Linked DNA regions of Homo sapiens: regions 1 and 2 are each linked to region 3. Evidence: fine-mapped expression QTL. A gene starts in region 3. Each other region holds a variant in brackets. All regions are shown on one strand. Distances are from middle to middle. Region 1 overlaps MED16 (mediator complex subunit 16). Region 2 overlaps SHC2 (SHC adaptor protein 2). Region 3 holds the start of CFD (complement factor D).

Region 1 (8,156 bases), 21 kb before region 3:
AGAGGGCCACTGCCATTCCTTCCCCCAGGGCTTGTAGTGAGTCACCAGGCAGGTGAAGAGGGCTGCTGCCATTCCTTCTCCCAGGGCTCGTTCCTTCGCCCGGTCCCCAGGGCCTTGTTGGGCCTCATTCCTTCCCCTGGGCCTCGTGGTGAGTCACCAGGCAGTTTGGGCTGCGCTGGCTCCTGCAGCAGCACCTGGCGCCACCCCGTGTGGCTGCACAGACCTGCACCTTCACTGCCCGGTGCCCCCGCTGGGCACGTCTGTGTCTACCATCTGCCCACAGCCAAGCCACTGGGCAGTCCTGGGCTCCGACACTCCTCCTCGTCTCCTGCAGCCGTCCTCACCTGCTGGCCCAGCTGTTACCCGCCCGAGAGCCACGTCTCACACACATGCCACAGCCTTTCTCAGGTCTCACATCCCTGGCAGCTGGGGGTCACTGGGACAGTCCCCACCGCACCCATCTCTCCCCCATCTCTCCCCCTACCGCCCCACGTGCCCACCATGCCAGGCTTTGGTCCCCGCCATGCCCAGCTCTTCACGCACCGCCCCACGTGCCCACCGTGCCAGGCTTCGGTCCCCGCCATGCCCAGCTCTTCACCCACCACCCCACGTGCCCACCGTGCCAGGCTTCGGTCCCCGCCATGCCCAGCTCTTCACCCACCGCCCCACGTGCCCACCATGCCAGGCTTCGGTCCCCGCCATGCCCAGCTCTTCACGCACCGCCCCACGTGCCCACCATGCCAGGCTTCGGTTCCTACCATGCCCAGCTCTTCACCCACTGCCCCACATCCCCACTTAGCAGCTTAGCTTCTCCCTGCCTCAAGTCCCCCCTCATTTAGGAATGCTGACCGCAGCCGTCAGTTGGATGGAGGAGGGGATGTAAATCGTGCTGTGAGGGTACCCTGGCCACTAGCTGGGGGTGTGGTCGTCATGGCAGCTGCCTCCCCCGGCGCTGGGGCGTTGAGTTTCCTGTCTTTCCTATGAGAGGCTCAATTCCATGAGGGCCAGCCACCCCTGACCACTGTGTGCCCTCTGGGCGTCTCAGCCACTCTCTGGGCCTGTTTCCCCCCAGGGAATGCTGCTCACAGGACCCCTATACGGGTTTGCAGGAGGTCAAGGCTCTGTGACCGTGATGGCCCGTCCGGGGCAGAGACCTCATGATGCGGGTGGCACAGAGCAGCTGCGTGGTAGTCAGCTTCAGCCGAGTAACAAGCCAGCCCCAAACTGAGCAGCTCAGGCCAGCAGCCCTGCACTGTTTCTGTTTCTGTGGCTGCCTCAGCTGCGCTCTCCTGGTTCCCACGTGTCTGCGGTTAGCAGCCGAGGTGGCGTGGCCTGTCCACTGGCCGCACATGCTCCAGCAGGCCGGCTCCAGCTGCCCTCCGTGTCCCACATGCAGCCACAGCAGGACCCCCCACACGTGCTCTCTGGGCCACTGTTTTTGTTTTTTGTTTTTGAGCTAGGCTCTTGCTGTGTTGCCCAGGCTGGAGTGCAGTGGCGTGATCTTGGCTCACTGCAGCCTCATCTTCCTGGGCTCGAGCAATCCTACCTCAGCCTCCTGAGTAGCTGGGACTACAGGCGTGTGCAGGCGTGCATCACCACCACACACAGCTAATGTTTACTGTGTTTTTTTTGTAGAGAATGGGGTCTTGCTGTGTTGTCCAGGCTGGTCTTGAACTCCTGGACTCAAGCCATCCTCTGGCGTTGGCTTCCCAAAGTCTTGGGGTGGCAGATGTGAGCTGCTGTGCCCGGCCATGTCACATTTGCTAAGGCTTGGCCTGAGATTCCCAGAAGTCTCTGCCCTGTTGGGAGGAGCTGCGTCTTCACGCAGGGGCTGTCAGGCAGCGGATCTGTGGGTGCGACCATCCCGCATGGCTTTATTGGAATTGTAGATGAGGAGGGATGGGAATCCCGGCTGAGCTGGCTAAGGCCGAGCGAGTGTTAGGGTTTGCATGGCTGCAGGTCTGAGGTGGCGCCGTCTCCCCACTGTCTGCCCCATCGGGGGTGAGATGGTGCCGGCCCACAGGTTTCCATGAAATCCCAGGGCCCACCTTGGGTCACGTGCCCATCCTGGAACCAATGAGTGGCCGAGGCACGAAGCGCTCGGATTGGCCGGGCCTGGTCTTCTGGGCATGGGAGCAGGGCGGCATGAGACCTGGGAAGGGCCCTGGGCAGGTTGCACACCAGGCCATGCTGGACTCCTGCGGCTGTCTCAGCCTGTCTTTACTCCATTGCCTTCCTGTTTTCCTGCCCCTGATTTTTCAGTTGGCGACAAACAGCCCACAATTCTCAAATGGCGGATCCTATCGGCCACCAACGATCTGGACCGTGTGTCGGCCGTGGCGCTGCCCAAGCTGCCCATCTCGCTCACCAACACCGACCTCAAGGTGGCCAGCGACACACAGTTCTACCCTGGCCTCGGTACGGTGGAGCCAGCGGCAGCCACGCGGGGCCTCAGTTCACACCAGGGGAGTTGGGCCCTGAGCACAGGCCACGGGGTCGTGGGAGCTCACACCAGAGGACGTGGGCTCTGAGCACAGGCCATGGGGCTGTAGGAGCTCAGCCTTCTGGGTTCTGATGGGTTCCCAATTAGGAGGCAGATCTCATCTTTCGGGATCTGTGAGGCTGGCAGACAGATCCAGTGTTCTTTAATATGTAAAGAGTCATTGCAAATCAACAAGGGAGCCTGGGGAACTTGGTGGAACTCCTTCCTGGGTAGGCGGCATGTGTCCTCTCTGTGCTGCAGCAGCCATAATGTGGTCCTGAGCTCAAACCGTGGCATCCGTGCCCATGAGTGAGTCTGCACACTCTTCAGTGCCTACCCTATTTGCTCAGCTGTAAAATGTGGACAAGTCGGCCCTAGCTCAGGCCCTTTCTTCCCCCAGCTCCCGTTCTTCCCTGGTTCCCTGGAAAGAGCATTTATCAAAACCCGCTCGGGGCTCAGGGCTGTTCCTCAGAGCCTGCAGAGAGGTTGAGGGGATGCAGTTCCCTGCTCCAAAACCCTTGGTTTATGCTCCATTTTCCAGGCTCTATTTTTTTTTTTCTTTTTTTTTTTGAGTTGGAGTCTCATTCTGTTGCCCAGGCTGGAGTGCAGTGGTGTGATCTCGGCTCACTGCAACCTCCGCCTCCTGGGTTCAAGCGATTCTCCTTCCTGCCTCAGCCTCCCGAGTAGCTGGGACTACAGGCGCGTGCTGCCACGCCCGGCTAATTTTTTGTATTTTAGTAGAGACGGGGTTTCACCGGTGTTGCCCAGGCTGGTCTCGAACCCCTGAGCTCAGGCAATCTGCCCGCCTCAGCCTCCCAAAGTGCTAGGATTACAGGCGTGAGCCACCGCGCCCGGCTTTGCAGCCTCTCTACTGCAGGGACTCCTTTCATATTCTCTTTTCCATGAGCTTTGGGCTCTGGACCCCACCTCCCCCCGGCCCTCGTACAATGGCAGACCCCAGTGTGAGTGACAGCCCCAGCCCACCACCCTAAGATGCCTCTCTTTGGGACGCCAGGAGCCCCAACCCTTGGTCCCCCACCTGTAGTGCCCCCCTCCCCTGCGCTCCTTGAGGGGCGTGTCAGCCAGGACATGGGCCCAGCTGGGAGGGGCGGGGAGGGGCTGGGAGCAGTGTGGCCAAGGCTGCTGGCTCCTGCTCCCCTGGTGCTCAGGGACTGTGTAACTAAAGAAAGAGTGGCTGGGGGCACGGGCGCTGGATGCCGATTGGCGGGGGCTGACCCCCTGGATGGGCAGCCCCGGCTCTCCACACCCTGCAGAGCAGGAGGCCCCTCCCCCGGCGGGCGTGTCCTGGGCCCTGCCCATGTCTAAGCAGTGCCTGTGCCCCACAGGGCTGGCCCTGGCCTTCCACGACGGCAGCGTCCACATCGTGCACCGGCTCTCACTGCAGACCATGGC[C/T]GTCTTCTACAGCTCCGCGGCCCCGAGGCCTGTGGATGAGCCGGCCATGAAGCGCCCCCGCACCGCGGGCCCCGCCGTCCACTTAAAGGCTATGCAGCTATCGTGGACGTCACTGGCCCTGGTGGGGATTGACAGCCACGGGAAGGTGAGCTGCTGGGGCACGTGGGGCCGGGGCTGGTGGGCATTGACAACCAGGGGAAGGCGAGCTGCTGGGCATTGACAACCAGGGGAAGGTGAGCTGCTGGGGCACGTGGGGCTGGCCCTGGTGGGGATTGACAGCCAGGGGAAGGCGAGCTGCTGGGGCACGTGGGGCTGGGGCTGGTGGGCATTGACAACCAGGGGAAGGCGAGCTGCTGGGCATTGACAACCAGGGGAAGGCGAGCTGCTGGGGCACGTGGGGCTGGGGCTGGTGGGCATTGACAACCAGGGGAACGTGAGCTGCTGGGGCACGTGGGGCTGGGCTTGGGGGGCATTGACAACCACGGGAAGGTGAGCTGCTGGGCATTGACAACCAGGGGAAGGCGAGCTGCTGGGGCGTGGCCCTGGTAGGCATTGACAACCAGGGAAAGGCGAGCTGCTGGGGCACGTGGGGCTGGGGCTGGTGGGCATTGACAACCAGGGGAAGGCGAGCTGCTGGGGCACGTGGGGCTGGGGTTGGTGGGCATTGACAACCAGGGAAAGGTGAGCTGCTGGGGCATGTGCGGCTGGGGCTGGTGGGCATTGACAACCAGGGGAAGGTGAGCTGCTGGGGCACGTGGGGCTGGGCTTGGTGGGCATTGACAACCATGGGAAGGTGAGCTGCTGGGCATTGACAACCAGAGGAAGGCGAGCTGCTGGGGCATGTGGGGCTCGGCTTGGTGGGCATTGACAACCATGGGAAGGTGAGCTGCTGGGCATTGACAACCAGGGGAAGGCGAGCTGCTGGGGCACGTGGGGCTGGGGCTGGGGCTGGGGCTGGGGGGTATTGACAACCAGGGGAAGGCGAGCTGCTGGGGCACGTGGGGCTGGGGCTGGGGCTGGTGGGCATTGACAACCGGGGGAAGGTGAGCTGCTGGGACATGTGGGGCTGGGGCTGGGGCTGGTGGGCATTGATAGCCAGGGGAAGGTGAGCTGCTGGGGCACGTGGAGCTGCGGCCGGGGCCGGGGCCGGGGCCGGGGCCGGGGCTGGTGGACATTGACAACCAGGGAAAGGTGAGCTGCTGGGGCACGTGGGGCTGGGGCTGGGGCTGGGGCTGGTGGGCATTGACAACCAGGGGAAGGGGAGCTGCTGGGGCACGTGGGGCTGGGGCTGGTGGGCATTGACAACCAGGGGAAGGGGAGCTGCTGGGGCACGTGGGGCTGGCCCTGGTGGGGATTGACAACCAGGGGAAGGCGAGCTGCTGGGGCACGTGGGGTTGGGGCTGTTGGGCATTGACAACCAGGGGAAGGTGAGCTGCTGGGGCACGTGGGGCTGGGGTTGTGGCTGGTGGGCGTTGACAACCACGGGAAGGTGAGCTGCTGGGGCATGTGGGGCTGGGGCTGGGGCTGGTGGGCATTGACAACCACGGGAAGGTGAGCTGCTGGGGCACGTGGGGCTGGGGCTGGTGGGCATTGACAGCCAGGGGAAGGTGAGCTGCTGGGGCACGTGGGGCCGGGGCCGGGGCCGGGGCTGGGGCTGGTGGACATTGACAACCAGGGAAAGGTGAGCTGCTGGGGCACGTGGGGCTGGGGCTGGGGCTGGGGCTGGTGGGCATTGACAACCACGGGAAGGTGAGCTGCTGGGGCACGTGGGGCTGGGGCTGGTGGGCATTGACAACCAGGGGAAGGCGAGCTGCTGGGGCCCGTGGGGCTGGGGCTGGGGCTGGGGCTGGTGGGCATTGACAACCAGGGGAAGGTGAGCTGCTGGGGCACGTGGGGCTGGGCTCGGTGGGCATTGACAACCACGGGAAGGTGAGCTGCTGAGCATTGACAACCAGGGGAAGGTGAGTTGCTGGGGCACGTGGCGCTGGGGCTGGGGCTGGGGGGCATTGACAGCCAGGGGAAGGCGAGCTGCTGGGGCACGTGGGGCTGGGGCTGGGGCTGGTGGGCGTTGACAACCACGGAAAGGTGAGCTGCTGGGGCACGTGGGGCTGGGGCTGGGGCTGGGGCTGGTGGGCATTGACAACCACGGGAAGGTGAGCTGCTGGGGCACGTGGGGCTGGGGCTGGTGGGCATTGACAACCAGGGGAAGGCGAGCTGCTGGGGCATGTGGGGCTGGGCTTGGTGGGCATTGACAACCACGGGAAGGCGAGCTGCTGGGGCACGTGGGGCTGGGGCTGGGGCTGGGGCTGGGGCTGGTGGGCATTGACAACCAGGGGAAGGTGAGCTGCTGGGGCACGTGGGGCAGGGGCTGGTGGGCATTGACAACCAGGGGAAGGCGAGCTGCTGGGGCACGTGGGTCTGGGGCTGGGGCTGGGGCTGGGAGGGTGCCAGAGGGAGGCGCCCCCGGGGGAAGGGACCACAGGTGCAAGCCCCTCGCCAGCCCCTGCCTGCGCTGCCTTGTCTGTGTGATGGGTTCGTCTTGTTGAGCGAGGTCAGTGGGGTGGCTCACAGCACGTATTAGGAGCTTCGTAACTAGGAGCTGTTGAGAGGACCGCCTTTCACGGGGTAGACTCCTCAGGTAAAGCAGACGAGTGTAAGCCTGGCTCGGCATCCAGTGCAGTCGGGGCTCAGGGAGGTTTCCTTCCCTGTTCCCAGAGGCATTGTGCATGACCCTGACAGAAAGGTACAGACGCTACAGACACATGCGCGCACACAGGCCCACACACGGGCGTGCGCGCACACAGATCCACACACGTGCCGCAGCCCCAGGGCCCCATTCCTCTCCCGGCTGAGGGCGCAGCCCCATCTCACCGGGCTCTCCTTGGGCTCTGTCTCTGGCAGCTGAGCGTGCTCCGCCTCTCACCTTCCATGGGCCACCCGCTGGAGGTGGGGCTGGCGCTGCGGCACCTGCTCTTCCTGCTGGAGTACTGCATGGTGACCGGCTACGACTGGTGGGACATCCTGCTGCACGTGCAGCCCAGTATGGTACAGAGCCTGGTGGAGAAGCTGCACGAGGAGTACACGCGCCAGACCGCTGCCCTGCAGCAGGTGGGGGCCCGTGGCAGGTGGGGCCCCGTGGCAGGTGGGGGCCCTGTGGCAGGTGGGGGCCCCGTGGCAGGTGGGGCCCCGTGGCAGGTGGGGGCCCCGTGGCAGGTGGTCCCGTGCCAGGTGGGGCTGTCCCTGTGGCAGGCAGGGGCCCCGTGGTCAGTAAAGTGCCAGCAGCAGGGAGGGAGTTCCCTTGGAGGGTGGAGGAGGTCTCTGCAGCAGTTGTAGAGGTCCCCACGGCAGATGTGGGGGTTGTGGCAGCTGGAGGGGTTTCCCTGCGGCAGGTTGGGGGCTCTATGGCAGGCGGAGGGCAAGAGGGGCAGGTAGCCTGTGGCAGGTGAGGCTGCGTGTGGGGTGTGCTCCCAGAGGCCCGTCCAGGAAAGCTGCACCTCAGAGAAGCAGTTTCCTTCCTTACCTGGGAAGTTTCTTCTGTAACACGTTAAGCCCCACAGGTAAGGCCTGATCCCCCCTGGACGGCTCCCCTCTCCAGTGTTCCCAGTCTGGAGGTATCTTTCTAAGCCATCCTCTCAGAATGTGATGGGTACCAGGATGCACACCCGGTGGCCCTGTGGTGTGAGGCCTCAGCAAACACGGTCAGAAGATGAACACACAGAGACCCGCCCGTCGGAAGGAGAGGAGGGAGCGGATACGGAGGCCCACGTGCCAGAAGGGTCCCTTGCAGTGGTGTGGTTATGTGCCTGCAATCCCAGAGTGTCCTCGAAGGACCTCAGATCTAACGAGCTCAGCCGGCAGCTGCACGTGGGACCAGCCCTCTGAGCTTCACTTGTTTTCCTCTGTGCCATCAGAAACCAATACGAAGATAAAATGGGAAAAAAAAAATCCCATTCACGGCACAGCCTGCCGAGAAACGCGTGAGACCCAGGCGGGGGCTGCGAGGCTAAACCCCAGCGTGGCTGGGATCCGTAGCCAGTGACAGCGCTAGTGATGGCGAGACCTCGCCCTCTCCCTCCTTGGGCCGTCGCTGTGTGCCAAGCGTTTCATTTTTGTTTTTAGTTGTTTCTATTTTTTGTAGAGATGGGGTGTCCTACGTTGCACAGGCTCTCCAACTCCCAGCCTCCAGGAATCCTCCAGCCTCAGCCTCCCAAAATGCTTCAGCTCATTCATTCATTCTCTCTAGACCAGGGTCTCCCCGTAG
Region 2 (8,174 bases), 420 kb after region 3:
CCACCCACCCACCCATTCATCCATCCATCCACCCACCCATGCATCCATCCATCCACCCATCCACCCACCCGTCCATCCATCCATTCACCCACCCATCCATCCACCCATCCACCCACCCGTCCATCCATCCATTCATCCACCCACCCATCCACTCATCTATCCACCCACCCATCCATCCGTCCACCCGTCCACCCATCCACCCACCCATCCACCCATCCACTCATCCACCCACCCATCCATCCACCCATCCATCCATCCATCCACCCATCCACTCATCCACCCACCCACCCACCCGTCCATCCACCCACCCATCCATCCAGCCATCCGTCCACCCGTCCACCCACCCATCCACCCATCCACTCATCCACCCACCCATCCATCCACCCATCCATCCATCCACCCATTCACTCATCCACCCACCCACCCACCCGTCCATCCACCCACCCATCCATCCAGCCATCCGTCCACCCACCCACCCATCCACCCACCCACCCATCCATCCACCCACCCATCCATCCATCCATCCGTCCATCCATCCATCCACCCATCCACCCACCCATCCACCCACCCATTCATCCATCCATCCATCCACCCGCCCATCCATCCATCTGTCCATCCATCCATCCACCCATCCACTCATCTACTCATCTACCCACCCACCCATCCATCCATCCTTCCACCCTCCATCCATCCACCCACCCATCCATTCATTGTCCATCTGCCTGTCCATCCATCTACCCATCCATCCATCATCCACTCACCCATCATCCATCCGTTCACCCACTCACCCACCCATCTATTCATCTTCCATCCATTCTTTCATTCATCCATCCACCTGCCATCTTTCTGTCAGTCCATCCACCCATCATGCATCCATTCAACAGGAGGTGAGGCTGCTTAGTCCATGCCCTGCTTAAGTGCTCCCTGGCTCCCCAGCTGGCCCAGGATGAGCCCCTGCCCGTCATCACAGCCCAGGTCCTGTGGCCTCTGCTTCCTGCCTGCATTCTCACATCTGTCTCTGCTCCTTGCTCTCCCTGCTCCAGGTACATGGAGCCGTGGAGAGGGGCAGAGCCTGGGCCGGCCCACACAGTGACCTGTACACACCTCAGAAGCCCTCAGGCTGATGTATCTGTGGGGTAAAGTCCTAAAAATGGAGCTGCAGGGTCAAAGTGTTTGCGTGTTGATCATTTAAAGAAACTGAGGTGGACTTCACATAACGTTATTCATCATTTTGCATGTTGCATTTTTCACAGTTCAGTAGCATTTCGTACATTCATAATATCGTGCCACCACCCCTTCTGTCTAATTCCAGAATTTCTCATGACCCCAGTAGGAAACCTGTTCGTGTCAGCCTTCATTCCCCGGCTCCTGGCACCCACACATGCTCTTGCTGCCTCTGTAGGACATTTCATAGAGATGACGTGGGCTGTGCCCCTTACCCTCCCTCCAGCAAGGGCCAACGTTGGAAGGACGCTGTGGCCTTCGCCTCCTGGCCCTGTTCCCCCACCCTTTACGGCACTGAAGCAGGTCAGGGACTCGGTGGGACGCCTCTGCCCCTCTCGTCCCTCAGTATTATCAGTCATTGAGATGGTGAATTCCCTTTTCATGGAAACAGCTGTCTGGGCCAGAAGCCCGCAAACTTCCTGTGGAGGGCGAGGCCAGCAGTGTGTGCATCTGTGGCTGCCCTGGACGTCTGCCCCACTGTTTGCCAGACCCTGAACTGGGCGCTGGAGATAGGGAAGTGCTCAGGATCGCACCATCCCCACGCTCCTCGGCTTCGGTGCTGGTGGAACAGAAAGAGACCGACGAGGGCAAGACGGTTAAATGAACAAGCAGCATAGAGCGTCTGGGGGAACCACCAGGCTCCTGAGAAACAGCAACACAGAAAAACATGCCTGGAGTCAGAGGGGGCGGCTCGCAGGACAGTGTCAAGGCTGGGCCTTGAGGTGGGGGAGGCACGACGGCCCCAGAGCCACCAGGGACAGAGGAAAGGGCTCGACCCCAGGGGTGGTGGAGGCGGCGAAGGGCTGCTGGGAAAAGGGACGTGGCTCCACTGCGGGGGTTCCGATGGCATCTGACACCTGTTCTCTCCCCTCAGTACATGGGCTGCATCGAGGTTCTCCGCTCTATGCGCTCCCTGGACTTTAACACGCGCACGCAGGTGACCAGGTGAGCCTCCAACCCTGCCCTGGCCGCGTAGGGCTGAGTGACGCACTGGAGGGCGGCAGCACTGGAGGGCGGCAGCGATGGGCTCTCCGACAGCCGCGCTGGGGTCCCAGGACGCAGCCTCGGTGCCCCCCACCTCCCTCCCACTTCACGCCACGTCTCCGCCCTGTCCCCACGCCAGGTGTCGGTCACCGTGCCCTGCAGACCTCGATCCTCTAAGATGGAAAGAACACGCCGGTCGCTCACAGGGTGCTGGGCAAGTCCCCGCACGGCGTGGGGTGCAGGGCCTGGCGGGTTCCCTCTGGGACCGGGGCCCAGTGGCGTCTCCGTGTCCCTGCTCTGTTTTCCACACGGTGACCTCAGGATGCTATGCGGTGTCTGGAAAGCAATCACAGGGGCTGTGGATATGGCCAGGGCTTAAGCAGGGAAGAGAGCGACACCCTTTTTTTCTGTGAAAACTGGTTGATTCCATTCGTATAGACTTAAAAAAACCATGTGAGACAGTTTACACGTGCGTATGTGAGATATAATGTACAGTTTGAGACTTTAGGCTCTTCACAGAGTCACACGATCACCACTGTCTAGTTCCGAACATTCTCATTACCCCATCAAAACACCCCGTCCCCATCACAGCCACTCCCCGTCCCCTCCCCAGCCCCGGCACCCACGCATCCCCTCCCTGTCTCTGTGGATCGGCCTGTCCTGGACATTTCATAGCAATGGGATCACACGCTGCGTGGCCTCGTGTGTCTGGCGTCTCTCACTGAGCATGGCGTTCCCGAGGTGTGTCCGCGCTGTGGCCTGGGTCAGAGCCTTGCTCCTTTTTTTTTTTTTTTTTTGAGATGGAGTCTCACTCTGTTGCCCAGGCTGGAGTGCAGTGACACCGTGTCGGCTCACTGCAACCTCTGTCTCCTGGGTTCAAGCATTTCTCTTGCCTCAGCCTCCCCAGTAGCTGGGACTACAGGCGCCCACCACCACACCCAGCTAGTTTTTATGTTTTTAGTAGAGACGGGGTTTCTCCATGTTGGTCAGACCGGTCTCGAACCCCTGACCTCAGGTGATCCGCCCGTCTCAGCCTCCCCAAGTGTTGGGATGACAGGTGGGGGCCGCCGCGCCTGCATGCATTTGTTTGTGTCAGGCCCACAGTGCTAGGATGACAGGCAGGAGCCGCTGCATCTGGCCAATTTTTAACCTTTTGAGGAGCCCCCAGGCTGTTTTCCACAGTGGCCGTGCTGTGAAAATTCCCACATGCCCTGGGTGGGGGATCTGGTTTCTCCACGTGACGCCGACATTTCCGGGGCCCCTTCAGGACCCTGTAGACTTCTAACCTCTCCTGGGGACCAGTGGTCTGAGGCGCTCTTGTTTGGGGTCAGCTCCTGCCACCACTCAGGCTGCAGACAGGATCTCGACACGGACCCCGCGTCAGGCTCAGGGCCTCCTGCTCGCTGCTCCAACCCCCACATCTGATGCC[G/A]AGCCTTCCTTGTGGGCCGAGGCCAGGGACACACTGGTCCCTGGGAAAGAGGGTGGTAGAGGGGCCAGAGCTGGGGGCCGGGCCTCTGCCGGATGCAAGGACGCACGTGGAGTGGGCTGGTGCCCAAGCTGCACCTGTCCTGTGGGGCACTCCTCCCCCAGGTTCCCCAGCCCCCTCCCTGCCCACTTTAGGCCCCCTGATCCTCTCCCACCCCTCCCTCTCTGCCTTCCTCTCCCCTCTCTCTCGCCCTTCTCTGAGCTCCTGCCCCCTCCCCAGACCCCCGCCCTCTCTGACCCCTTCCTCCCCAGCTCCCTCCATGGCCACCCCCACCACACTCTCTAAGCCCCCTCCTCCCAACCCCAGGGAAGCCATCAACCGGCTCCATGAGGCCGTGCCTGGCGTCCGGGGATCCTGGAAGAAAAAGGTGAGTGAGGCTTGTGGTCTCTCGTGGGGCTGGTGGGGCAGTCGGGGGCTGTGGGGACGCTGCGGCCATCCTGGGAGCCCCTCGACAGCCCCCACCCACAGCCGCCCTCGCTGTGCTCCGCCCCCAACTCAGGCCCCCAACAAGGCCCTGGCGTCCGTCCTGGGCAAGAGCAACCTTCGCTTTGCCGGCATGAGCATCTCCATCCACATCTCCACTGATGGCCTCAGCCTCTCCGTGCCTGCCACGCGCCAGGTGGGTCTGCCCTCTTCGCCTGGCGTCCCCAGACCCCCAGAGGGGCCAGGAGTCCTAGGAGGCAAAGCCAGGTGGGGTGCTGGGGGCGGGCAGCAGGTGGCGTTTATCCAGAAAGACGAGCCGAGGCCCCGCTGAGCAGGAGCTGGGGGTGCAGCCACTGCCCTCACGGGGCTCAGCTCAGGGGCTCCCACCTGGGCGAGCCGTCCTGATACAGGGGCGCTCCTGGCATGGAGTGGGTGGGGGCAGGGACGCTGCTCAGCACCCTGCAGGGGCCAGGACGCCCCACCCCAGAGAGTGGTCCGTCCCAACATCCACAGTGCCTGGGGAGGGGCGGGGATAAACCCTGGCTATCAGTCCTCAAGTGGAAACAAACAACAAAAGTATAATTGCAGACCAGGCTCGGGCTTGGTTGCTCACGCCTGTAACCCCAGCACTGTGAGGCCGGGCTCAGTGGCTCACGCCTGTAACCCCAGCACTTTGGGAGGCTGAGGGGTGGGCAGATCACTTGAGGTCAGGAGTTCGAGACCAGCCTGGCCAACATGGCTGACTCTACAAAAAATACAAAGATTAGCCGGGTGTGGTGGTGGGCGCCTGTAATCCCAGCTACTTGGGAGGCTGAGGCAGGAGAATCGCTTGAACCTGGGAGTGGAGGTTGCAGTGAGCCAAGATTGCACTACTGCACTCCAGCCTGGGCAACAGAGTGAGACTCTGTCTCAAAAAACCAAAAAACAAAAAACTATAATTGCAGAAATAGAGGAAATAACAGATTTTAGGAAGCATTGTGAGGCCAGGTGAGGGGTGTCCTGAGCATGTGCTGGGCTCTGGGTGCTAGAAGAGACTTCCTGGAGGGCTCTGGGAGGTGGTGAGGAGGGGAATCTCAGGTGTGGCTGAAAGAGGAGGCATCGCCTTGTCGGAGAAGTTAGCATGGATCATCGTGAGGAGTTTGGGGTGAGACAGCATCTCTGAGCTGGTGTGGTGGCAGCAGGTGGCGGTGAGGGGCAGCTGGGGCTCCAGGGAGGAGGCTAGAGAAGGATGGAGCTGGCGGGGGGGTGACTGAGGGCCATTTCCACGCAATTTCCATCTCTGCCCCCACCCTGCGAGGCATGGACCCCTGACCACTATATGGACAGGATACTGAGGCTCCAAGCAGACCCTCCTGGCTGGGCCGGGGTTGGCAAGGGGAGAGCCTCGAGGGTCCCTATGGGGGCTGAGAAGTGGATGTTCTGTAGGGAGGACTCAGGACGTGGCTGGTATCGGGGGCTTACTGGGGCCTAGAGGGATTTGAGTGACGGGAAGCAAATGAAGCAGGACCATGCAAATGAGCATGCAAACAAGCACGCAGACGAGCACACAAACAAGCACACAGATGAGCATGCAAACAAGCACGCAGATGAGCATGCAGATGAGCACACAGACGAGCACGCAGATGAGCACACAGACGAGCACGCAGACGAGCACGCAAACGAGCACGCAGATGAGCTCGCAAACGAGCACGCAGATGACCACGCAAACGAGCAAGTAGATGAGCATGCAAACGAGCATGCAGATCAGTAGGCAAACAAGCATACAAATGAGCATGCAGATAAGCATGCAAATGCACTCACAGGTGCCCTTGCACGTGGACAAGGGAGTCAGGAGTGTGGGGCCGTCCCTCCCGTGGCTGCTTCGGGTGTGTGTGTGTGTGTGCATGTGTGTGGGGCTTGGGGTGTGTGTGTGTGAGCGTCTGGGCAGGTACATGTGTGAAGTGTTACAGTGGGGGAGGTTTGTCCTCTCACACACATTCCCGTGTGACCTCCTGCGGACCCCACACATCCCTTAGGGCCCTAGTCCCTTCCTTGCTGGGGACTCCACATCCCAGCCTCGGTCGTCCAGGCTGACCCAGGACCCGGCTGCAGTGGGTGCCTGTCCAGGAGACGTCTCCATCCCCACATCCCTGCCCCTGCCCCACTCTTCGCTGTGGTCCTGGTCCATCTGCCGGGCCCCCTGCCCTCGAAGCGGGGCCCCCATGACCGCGTGTGCCTCCTGCCGCCACAGGTCATCGCCAACCACCACATGCCGTCCATCTCCTTCGCGTCAGGCGGAGACACGGTGAGGCCAGGGATGGGGGTGGACCTGCAGCCCTGCCGCCCCCCTCCGGCCGCGAGACCCTCTCATCCTTCCCCAGAGCCCGCCTAACGTACCCTGTGCCCACATCCACTGCCCCATCTCTCTGCATTGCTGGGGTGGGCAGCTGGGAATCCCGGTGGGGGGCCCAGGCAGGTCCAGCTGGCCCCTCCCCGCCCCCAGGACATGACGGATTACGTGGCCTACGTCGCCAAGGACCCCATCAACCAGAGAGGTGAGGCCCCCGGGGAGGCCGGTGGGGGTCCTGTGGCTGGGGGGCACGGCCGTGTGGCTCGGAGGCTGCATGACCAACGTGCCCGCAGCCTGCCACATCCTGGAGTGCTGTGAGGGCCTGGCACAGAGCATCATCAGCACCGTGGGCCAAGCTTTCGAGCTGCGCTTCAAGCAGTACCTGCACAGCCCGCCCAAGGTGGCGCTGCCCCCAGAAAGGTAACCAGAGCTGCCTCCCCCGTGCCCTGGGGACACCCCCAGTGACCTGCCCAGGTGCAGAGCCTGCTCCACCTCCTGCAGGCCTCAGCCTCCGTCCTGCCCTTGTCCCTCCCTCCCTGTCCCGTGAGAATATGGCTCAGCCAGAGGATCCTGTTTCCTCGGCTGTTAACACCCGAGTAAACGCATCCCCGCCTGCCCCCCAGGATTGGGGAGGACTAAGCAAGCTGACTCCCCGGTGTGCCTGAGGCTGTCAGCCCTGCTGCTACAACCAATATCCCTCCTCCAGACGCGCGGCCGGCTCCCGCAATGGGCAGAAAACGGCCTCCGTCTCACCGCAGAACATGTGTAAAGGGGGGGACGTGTCTGTGTGCTGGTAACACGTTTTTTATAGACATTGAAGTGTGAATGCCACGTGTTGCAAAATATGATTCTCTAGATGTTTTCTCAAACACTTAACTTTGATAATTTAAAGATTGAAAGCCCATTCTTAGCTCGTGGGCCACACAGATCTAGGCGGTGAGCTGGATTTGGCCCTGGGCTGGGGTTTGCCAGCTGGCCTTGGAGAAGGAGCTATTTAAGTCTCTATTCATCATTAGAAAGTCAGCTTCCTCCAATGGTGGGAGGGCAGGTGCAGGTGCATGAGCTCCCAGCCTGCTGGTCACGAGGGAGGCGGCATCGCACGCCTGCTCACACTCACCCCTTTGTGCACGGGGACAGCGTGCTTGATGCACGTTGCTCAGCACGCTCCGAAGCTGAGACGGGCTCCTCGCCTGCCTCCAGAGCTGCCTCTGCCTTCCGTAGGCTGCTTCATAATTTATCCCAGCAGCGACTGTGGGCCAGGTGGGGTGCACCCCTCTGGCTCTCGGGGCCGTGCTTGCTGAGGAGCACCTGCAGGATCAATTCCTGCCAGTGCCATCGGGGCCAGAGGGCGGGGGCGCTTTGATCCCAGAGAGTTGCCACCCTGACCGGTGATGTCCTGGTTCTGGGTATAAACTTGGCTCATGCCCTCTGCTGCCGGGCGGGGCCGGAGGTGGGCAGAAAGGAGTGGAGACTGGGTTTGCCAACGACCTGCCTTTTGTGCTACAGCTCGGAAATGTGTGCAACATTCCATTTTATAGATGAGGAAGTAGTGGGCCTGGTCACTGGCTCTAGAAGCGTTTCCCGGTAGGAACCCTCAGTGACAGGTGGGGGGCTGGGATTCGAACTCAGATATTTCCTGCTCCCCCAGAAGCTCAAGCCGTAAGGCTTTAGCCCCCTTGGGCCCTGCCTGTGCCATGGCCGTTGTTGTCTGTCCCCCAGGCTGGCAGG
Region 3 (8,174 bases):
TGGAGTCGCGCTACGTGGCCCATGCTGATCTCGAACTCCTGAGATCCAATGATCCTCCCACCTCGGCCTCCCCTTCTGCATATAGTAGGTGCTCAATAAAGACCAACCAGATGCAGGAGTGGATGACTTCATTGCTCGGGACTTTGTTGCTTGGGTGACCCTGACCTTCAGGCCCCGGCACCCTAGGCCAGGACGCTGTCGATCCAGGCCGCATAGCTCGCCACGCGGGTGTAGATCCCGGGCTTCTTGCGGTTGCCGCAAACGCGCGAGCCCGAGGTGACCACGCCCTCGAGCACGCCCCCGCACACCAGCGGGCCCCCGGAGTCACCCTGCCGGAACAGGACGGGGCCGTGAGGGGCGGCCCGCGCCCACCCCGGCCTCACGTGTTAGACCCCCTCACCTGGCTGCCGCTCCCGCCCCACAATGCTCGCTCATCCCTCCCGTGTTAATTTGGTCTTCACTAGTCAATAGCCCCGCGCCACGCCTATCGCCTAGGCCACAACCACAAGCCACGCCCCTCTAGGCCCGCCCCCAGCTCCTGGCCACACCCCCTCTGGCCTCAACCTCACCACGTGTTCCCCCGACCCCACCCCGCTCCAAGCCCTTTCCAGTATGGGGGTCCCACACCTCATTCCTGCTCTTCCAAGCTTTGACTTGCCGTGGATCCCACTTCTGCCCTAACGCGTCTCAGTGGCCACCTGCTCTGCTCAGTCCCCACTCACCTCAGGCCACGCCCCTCCCTTAAGCCCCACCCAATCTTGGCCCCGGCTACCATGCAAGCCTCGGCTGGTCTTAAACCTCTGCCCTGCTCAGGACCCCTTCTCTTCCCTGCCACAGCAGGGATCCCGCTCCGCACCAGCCCTGCCCCTTCAGAGGTTCCCGCCCCTTCCACCTGCCCCGCCCCGTCCCCATGCCCCGCCCCTTCCTCCACGTGCCCGCCCCCTATACCTCCCACCCTTTCTCTGCCACCTGCCCTTTTGCCCGCCCTGACCCTTCTCCAGCCCCACCCTCCCCACAGGTACCGCCCCTTCCTCCATGCCCTGCCCCTCATGCCCCAACCCTCTTCCTGGCCTCGCCCCCTTGCAGTCCCGCTATTACTGGACTCCGCCCCCTCCTCGAGCCCCGCCCCCTATTCCCACCCTAACCCACAGGTCCTTCCACATCCCACCCGTTCCTGCCCTTTCTGCCCGCCCTGACCCTTCTTCAGCCCCACCCTCTCCAGAGGCCCCGTACCTTCTCCAGGCCTCGCCCCCAAGGCCCCACCCTACCCACATGCCCCGCCCCCTCATACAGGCCCCGCCCACGGGCCACCCTCATGCTCCGCCCATCTTCCAGTTCCCGCCCCCTACGCGCCCCGCCCCTTCCCTGGGCCCTGTTCCTACTTGCCCCCCGCTTCGCGCTCCCTCTGCAGGCCCTTCCCGGGGCCTGCAGGCCCCGCGTCTCCTCCCAGGCCTGAAGGCTCACCTTGCAGCTGTCCCGGCGATTGCTCTCCGCGCACATCAAGCGCTCGGTGATGGCGCCGTCGTGGTGCGTGCGCCGGTTGCAGGTGGCGCGGTCCAGCACTGGCAAGAGCACGTGCTGCAGGCTGTCCGGGCGGCGGCCCGCGTGGTTGACTATGCCCCAGCCGGCCACGTCGCAGAGAGTTCCCGGTGCCACGTCGCGGTCCACGCGCTGCCAGGGCAGGGGGCGCACAGCAGGGCCCAGTGTGGCCTTCTCCGACAGCTGAGGGTGGAGGCGGACGTCAGGGTTGGGGTGCGGGGGTGCGAGGCTGGGGAGAATGCCGCTAGGCTCGGGGAGACGGGACGGGGGAGGTGGGCATCAGGGCAGGGGCGTGGGTCTCAGTGCAGCAGGAGAGATTTAGGCTAGACCCTGGGTGGGGGTGCAGGTGGGGATGGGGTGGGTGCGAGGCTCACCAGTGCAGCTGCAAAGGTCGAGGCTGGAACCGGGATGGGGATGCAGGGGGAGCGGGGGGTGGGGGGCTCCCAGTGCAGCCGCAGAGGTCGAGGCTAGACCCGGGGTGAGGGTGCGGGGGTTGTAGGGCGGGGTCCCCATGCAGCAGGAGAGGTCGAGGCTGGACCCGGGGTGAGGGTGCAGGGGGTGGGGGGGCTCCGAGCGCAGCAAGAGAGGTCGAGGCTAGACCCGGGGTGAGGGTGTGGGGGTTGTGGGGCGGGGTCCCCATGCAGCAGGAGAGTTCGAGGCTGGACCCGGGGTGAGGGTGCAGAGGGTGGGGGGGCTCCGAGCGCAGCAAGAGAGGTCGAGGCTAGACCCGGGGTGAGGGTGTGGGGGTTGTGGGGCGGGGTCCCCATGCAGCAGGAGAGGTCGAGGCTGGACCCGGGGCGCGGTGTAGGCGGGGTGGAGTGAGGGTGGGCCGGGGATCCCAGCGCCGCAGGAGGGACTGCGCTACACGGGGCCGACCTGTAGCAGCAGGAGGTCGTGGTCGATGGTGTCGGGCTGGCTGTCCGGGTGGGGCACTGCGCGGAGCACGTCGTACAGGCGCTTGGAGGGCTCCGGCTGCGACAGGGAGTGCGCGCCCAGGAGAACCTGCACCTTCCCGTCGGCCCTGGGGACCGGACGGAGTCCGCGGTCGGTGCCAGCCGACTCCCCCCACCGCACCCGGGCTCTTCCCCCGCGCGGCGCGGGCACTCACGCGTCCTCCAGGCAGTGCGCCGCGCTCAGCACCCACTGCTCCGCCACCAGGACGCCGCCGCACAGGTGCGCGCCGTTCAGCTGCACCGACGCCATGTAGGGCCGCGCGTGCGCCTCGGCCTCTCTGCCGCCCAGGATCCGACCACGGGGCGGCGCCGCTGTGGGTGGGCGGGCGCGTGAGGGCCGCGGGGTGGACTCCTCCCCCGGGCGAGGCTGCCTGACGGGATCCCAGCTCTCACCCCCCAGGCCGCTCCCCGCAAGAATCCCATCTCTGGGCGCGGTGGCTCACGCCTGTAATCCCAGCACTTTGTGAAGCCGCGCGGGGGCGGGGGGGGAGGGGGGGGTGCAGATCATGAGGTCAGGAGTTCAAGACCAGCCTGGCCAATATGGTGAAACCCCGTCTCTACTTTAAAAAAAAATACAAAATTTAGTCGGCGTGGCCTATAATCTCAGCTATTCGGAAGGCTGAGGCAGGAGAATCGCTTGAACCCGGGAGTCGGAGTTTGCAGTGAGCCGAGATCGCACCACTGCACTCCAGCCTGGACGACAGAGCGAGACTCCCTATCAAAAAAAAAAAGAAAGAAAAAAAAGAATCCCGTTTCCGTCTTGGGGCCCCTCAGCGTTGCAAACTCAGATACCCTCGGGCGGGAATGCCCCAGAGTACAGAACCCACAGTGGGCTGGGGACCGGGGGCAGATCCCAGCGCCCTACCCTGGGCGCAGTGCCTTCCAGTTGGACATAAGAGAAATGGGGCTGACCCAGCCAGTGCCTGGGCCAGCCCAGTCAGCCACGCAGATGAAGTTTTCCACGCAGACGTTCAGACTCTGTCTGCAAGAAAAGCTGACTCCAGAAAGTTCCGATTTCCAATCTGAATTTTCTAGAATTTTTCAGCGTTCAGAGCCTTCCATTAGTGAGGAGAGACACCCCCTTCCTGCCCACCTGGAGGGGCTGGAGGACCGTCCGTGTGACGGAAGGGAGCACCACGCCCCTACACAGCCCTGTCCCTCACCCCAGGCCCAGGCCTCCTCACCGCAGGCGGCCGCTCCTAGGAGGACCAGAACTGCCAGGCGCTCCCAGCTGTGCATGGTGAAGCCGCTGTGGCTGAGACACTGACCCAGGCAGGGCCCTGGGGGTGCTTTTATGAGGGTGGAGGGGGCGGGCCGCTCCCCGGGTGGGCAGCGGCCCAGCTGGGGAAAGGGGAACTCGCCCGCCCAGCCTCCGCCCTCCCCGGGACTGGGTTACCTCCTGCCAGACTCACACCAGAGTCGACAAGTCGCTGGGAGACCCTCGGGCCTCTGTGAGCCTGACAGCCTGCTGGCCCTGGTGGGGGGCAGTCCCTCAGATGGGCAGGAGGCAGAGAGGGGGGCTGCACCCACCCCGGCCCCAACTTCACCACACCCAGAGTCCCCCAGGGTGTTTCACAATCCTAGCTGGAGGCCACAGCGTGTAAACAACCCACTTTCTTGTCCTGCTACCCTCCCTTCTTTTCCTCCTCTATATTAGAGAGAAGGTCTGTTGGGGGTAGGAAGGTCACTTGACACCTTTGTCTCTGTCCCTGTGGCCTCTGGGGCTTGACACCCTGACGAATAGAAAGTTGGAAAGGCCAAGGCAGAGGCAGCTGGGAAGACTGGCTACAAGGGACAGGAAAACCCAGACAAACTGGGTGGAGCCTGAATCATGAAAGTTATATGGAAAGTTCAGGGATGTCCGCCTTCAGGTGTGGCTTGATCCAGGTGCCTGAACAATGTCCAGTGTCTGCTTCTGGCTTCTCCTTTCTTCTCTGATGGCTTCTTTCCTCACCAGCCTCCCCTGGTGTGTTTCCAGGGACCCCACACTCAACCCAGTGGCTCAGTGGGCCCCTCCTAAAATTCTTCCTCACTCCAGCCAAGTCTCAAGGGTGCCTTGGGTTGGTGGAGCCTGGATCACACGCCCCCTCCCAAACTGTTCACTGAGGGCAGGTTCTGATGAACAGAGTCAGGGCTGGCCGGGCACAGTGGCTCCCACCTACCATCCCGGCACATTGAGAGACCCAGATAGGAGCATCTCTTGAGCCCAGGAATTCAAGGCCAGCTTGGGGAAGACGGCGAGACCCCATCTCTACAAAAAAATTAAAATAAAATACTTCTCAGAATCTGGGCCATAGGGCCTTTTGTGAGGTGGGGATTTGTGTGTGTTGTTTTTGTTTTATTACAGACAGGGTCTTGCTCTTTCATCCAGGCTCGAGTGCAGCGGTGCAATCATAGCTCACTGCAGCCTCCTCGACCTCCGGGGCTCAAGTGATCCTCCCACCTCAGCCTCCAGAAGTGCTGGGACTGCAGGCCTGCTCATGGTGTAGCTCCATTTTTCACATCTGCCCCACAGGGGCCAGCGGGATTCACGTTGCATTAATCCATGGTGCGGGGACCAGAAGGATGGGGATACCTTGTGGGGAGGACCTCAGACATTGTCCCCAGGGGGAGCAGCACACGAGGTTCCCCCGGCTTTTCTCTTCACCATGGATCATTTCTTTCTTTTCTTTCCTTTTTTTTTTTTTTTTTGAGACGGAGTCTCGCTCTGTCGCCCAGGCTGGAGTGCAGTGGCGCGATCTCAGCTCACTGCAAGCTCCGCCTCCCGGGTTCACACCATTCTCCTGCCTCAGCCTCCGGAGTAGCTGGGACTACAGGCGTCCGCCACCACGCCCGGATAATTTTTTGTATTTTTAGTAGAGATGGGTTTCACCGTGTTAGCCAGGATGGTCTCGATCTCCCGACCTCGTGATCCGCCTGCCTCGGCCTCCCAAAGTGCTGAGATTACAGGTGTGAGCCACCACGCCTAGCCTCATTTCCTTCCTTCCTTTCTCTGTTTTTCTCTTTCTTTCCCTTTCTTTTTCTTTCTTTCTTTCTCTTTCCTTCTTTTTTTCTTTCTTTCTTGCTTTTTTTTTTTTTTTGCGACAGAGTCTTGCTCTGTCGTCCAGGCTGGAGTGCAGTGGCACAATCTCGGCTCACTGCGACCTCCACCTCCCGGGTTCAAGCGATTCTACTGCCTCAGCTTCCCGAGTAGCTGGGATTACACGCATGAGCAACCACACTGGGCTAACTTTTTGTATTTTTAGTAGAGACAGGGTTTTGCCATGTTGGCCAGGCTGGTCTCGAACCTCTGACCTCAGGTGATCCGCCCACCTCGGCCTCCCAAAGTGCTGGGATTACAGGCATGAGCCACCATGCCTGGCCCCCTGTGGATTATTTCATACGCACAGAGAATAGAAAATGATATAACAACAGGGCTGGGCGTGGTGGCTACGCCTGTAATCCCAGCACTTTGGGAGGTCAAGGCGGGCGGATCACGAGTTCAGGAGATCGAGACCATCCTGGCTAACACGGTGAAACCCCGTCTCTACTAAAAATACAAAAAATGAGCCGGGCGTGGTGGCGGGCGCCTGTAGTCCCAGCTACTCGGGAGGCTGAGGCAGGAGAATGGCGTGAACCCGGGAGGCGGAGCTTGCAGTGAGCCGAGATCGCGCCACTGCACTCCAGCCTGGGCGACAGAGCGAGACTCCATCTAAAAACAAAAAAGAAAAAAACACAATGTGGGGAAGTCACTTCTGCTCCATTGCCCTGGCTGTGCTGCCCCCTGGTGGTGGCTTACTCCAGAGATGCCCAAGAGACTCTGGATTCTAGTTTGTTGTTTATTATTATTATTATCATTATTATTTATATTTATTTATTTATTTATTTATTTATTTATTTATTTATTTATTTATTTTTGAGATGGAGTTTCGCTCTTGTTGCCCAGGCTGGAGTGCAATGGAGCGATCTTGGCTCACTGCAACCTCCACCTTCCAGAATTCAGGTGATTCTCCTGCCTCAGGCTTCCCGAGTAGCTGGGATTACAGGCATGCACCACCACGCCCGGCTAATTTTGTATTTTTAGTAGATATGGGGTTTCTCCATGTTGGTCAGGCTGGTCTCGAACTTTAGACCTCAGATGATCCGCCTGCCTGGGCCTCCCAAAGAGCTGGGATTACAGGCACGAGCCACCGCACCGGTATTTTTTTTTTTTTTTTTTTTTTTTGAGACGGAGTCTCTCTGTGTTGCCCAGGCTGGAGTGCAGTGGCGTAATCTCGGCTCACTACAGCCTTCGCCTCGCAGGTTCAAGCGATTCTCCTGCCTCAGCCTCCCACGCGCCACGACGCCAAGCTAATTTTTTTTGTATTTATAGTAGAGATGGGGTTTCACCACGTTGGCAGACTAGTCTTGAACTCCCGACCTCAGGTGATCTGCCAGCCTCGGCCTCCCAAAGTGCTGGGATTGCAGGCGTAAGCCACTGGGCCAGGCTTGGACCATTTTATTTTATTTTATTTTATTTATTTATTTTTTTTTAATGGAGCGGGGGTTTTGCCATGTTGCCCAGGCTGGTCTTGAACTCCTGAGCTCAAGTGATCCGCCTGCCTCAACCTCCCAAAGTGCTGGGATTACAGGTGTGAGCCACCACGCCCGACCTACTGACCATTTTCAACACCCAATCACACAGCCAAGGAGCATCAAACACATTCTACAAAACAGAGAATGTTTATTGTGCCAGATGCTGGAGAGTGTGGGTGTGGGCAGCTGAGGTGACCCGGGCAGCCCTTCTCAGTGGGTCCTGCTGGCCGGGTCCGGGTCCCGGGGGTGGGGACAGGGGTTGTCCTCGGAGCGTTGGATGATAGAGTCGATCCAGTTTACAAACTGTGCCACCGGGGCAAAGGCATCGGGGTAGAGCCCTGAGGCGCAGCCTCCCCGGACGAAGGAGGCAATTCCGTGGATTAGCCCGTTGCAGACCAAGGGGCTGCCGGAGTCCCCCTGTGGAGGCAGACAAGGTGGGGAAGCTGGACTGCGAGGCCCTGCCCACCTGCCCGCCGCCTGTCAGGGTTGGGAAGTCCCTCCTAGGGTCTAGCCACGGTGCCTGTTGCTGCAGTCCGGGCTGGGAGCGGGTGGGGAGCAGAGGGACACCCAGGGCACGTACGAAACAGACGCCGGCCTGCCGGCCCCTCACGAGAGTGCAGACGTTGCTGCGACGGCAGAGGGACGTCACCACCGTCACGTTGAGCTCCTGCAGGACGCTGGCGATCCCACGGTTCCTGCCCAGAAGGCCCCAGCCCATGGCCAGGCACTGCACCCCGTTGCCCAGGCGGCGTCCCTGAGCCGGCAGCTGGGCCACCTGCACGTTGGCGTTGATGGTGGCCGACCCGTTGAGCTGTGGCGGTGGGGACAGATCGTCAGCGCGTCACACGGGGCAGTGATGATGACCCTCCCCTCTCCGGGCCTCAGTTTCCCCATCTCAGGTTCCACTGTGGTTCTGGGATCCTGCAGGGCAGGATACCCACCCCACACTCTGCTCCCCAAGGCAAGCCTCGGTTTCCCCATCTGTAGAGTGGGAGCCGTCACCAAGGCTCAGGGCGTTGGAGGTTGTCCCTGGATGTGGCTTGAGTGCAGGAAGCAGTAGGTGCTCAGTTAACAAAAAAACTACAGCCGGGCGCGGTGGCTCATGCTTGTAAGCCCAGCACTTTGGGA

The links.
Region 1: its variant is fine-mapped to the expression of CFD in whole blood (INTERVAL, PIP above 0.99).
Region 2: its variant is fine-mapped to the expression of CFD in spleen (GTEx, PIP above 0.99).

What each region holds. Positions count from the first base shown.
Region 1 is chr19:875,821-883,976 of GRCh38, reverse strand. It overlaps MED16 (mediator complex subunit 16), which reads left to right. Exons shown (of 16, transcript NM_005481.3): 7 at 2,263-2,418; 8 at 3,829-4,040; 9 at 6,797-7,003. Among named protein-coding and RNA genes, the nearest start is that of MED16, 13 kb to the left of the region's middle. The variant C/T (reference allele first, on the strand shown) is at 3,896.
Region 2 is chr19:434,857-443,030 of GRCh38, reverse strand. SHC2 (SHC adaptor protein 2) reads left to right here. Exons shown (of 13, transcript NM_012435.3): 2 at 2,099-2,169; 3 at 4,001-4,061; 4 at 4,194-4,313; 5 at 6,348-6,401; 6 at 6,600-6,651; 7 at 6,740-6,866; 8 at 8,166-8,174. Among named protein-coding and RNA genes, the nearest start is that of SHC2, 22 kb to the left of the region's middle. RefSeq lists an enhancer at 6,287-6,788. The variant G/A (reference allele first, on the strand shown) is at 3,638.
Region 3 is chr19:855,247-863,420 of GRCh38, reverse strand. CFD (complement factor D) reads right to left here and starts at 3,757. Exons shown (of 5, transcript NM_001928.4): 1 at 3,677-3,757; 2 at 2,648-2,804; 3 at 2,416-2,560; 4 at 1,465-1,722; 5 at 1-329. The coding sequence starts at 3,731. The coding sequence ends at 183. ELANE (elastase, neutrophil expressed) reads right to left here. Exons shown (of 5, transcript NM_001972.4): 4 at 7,627-7,857; 5 at 7,178-7,463. The coding sequence ends at 7,257.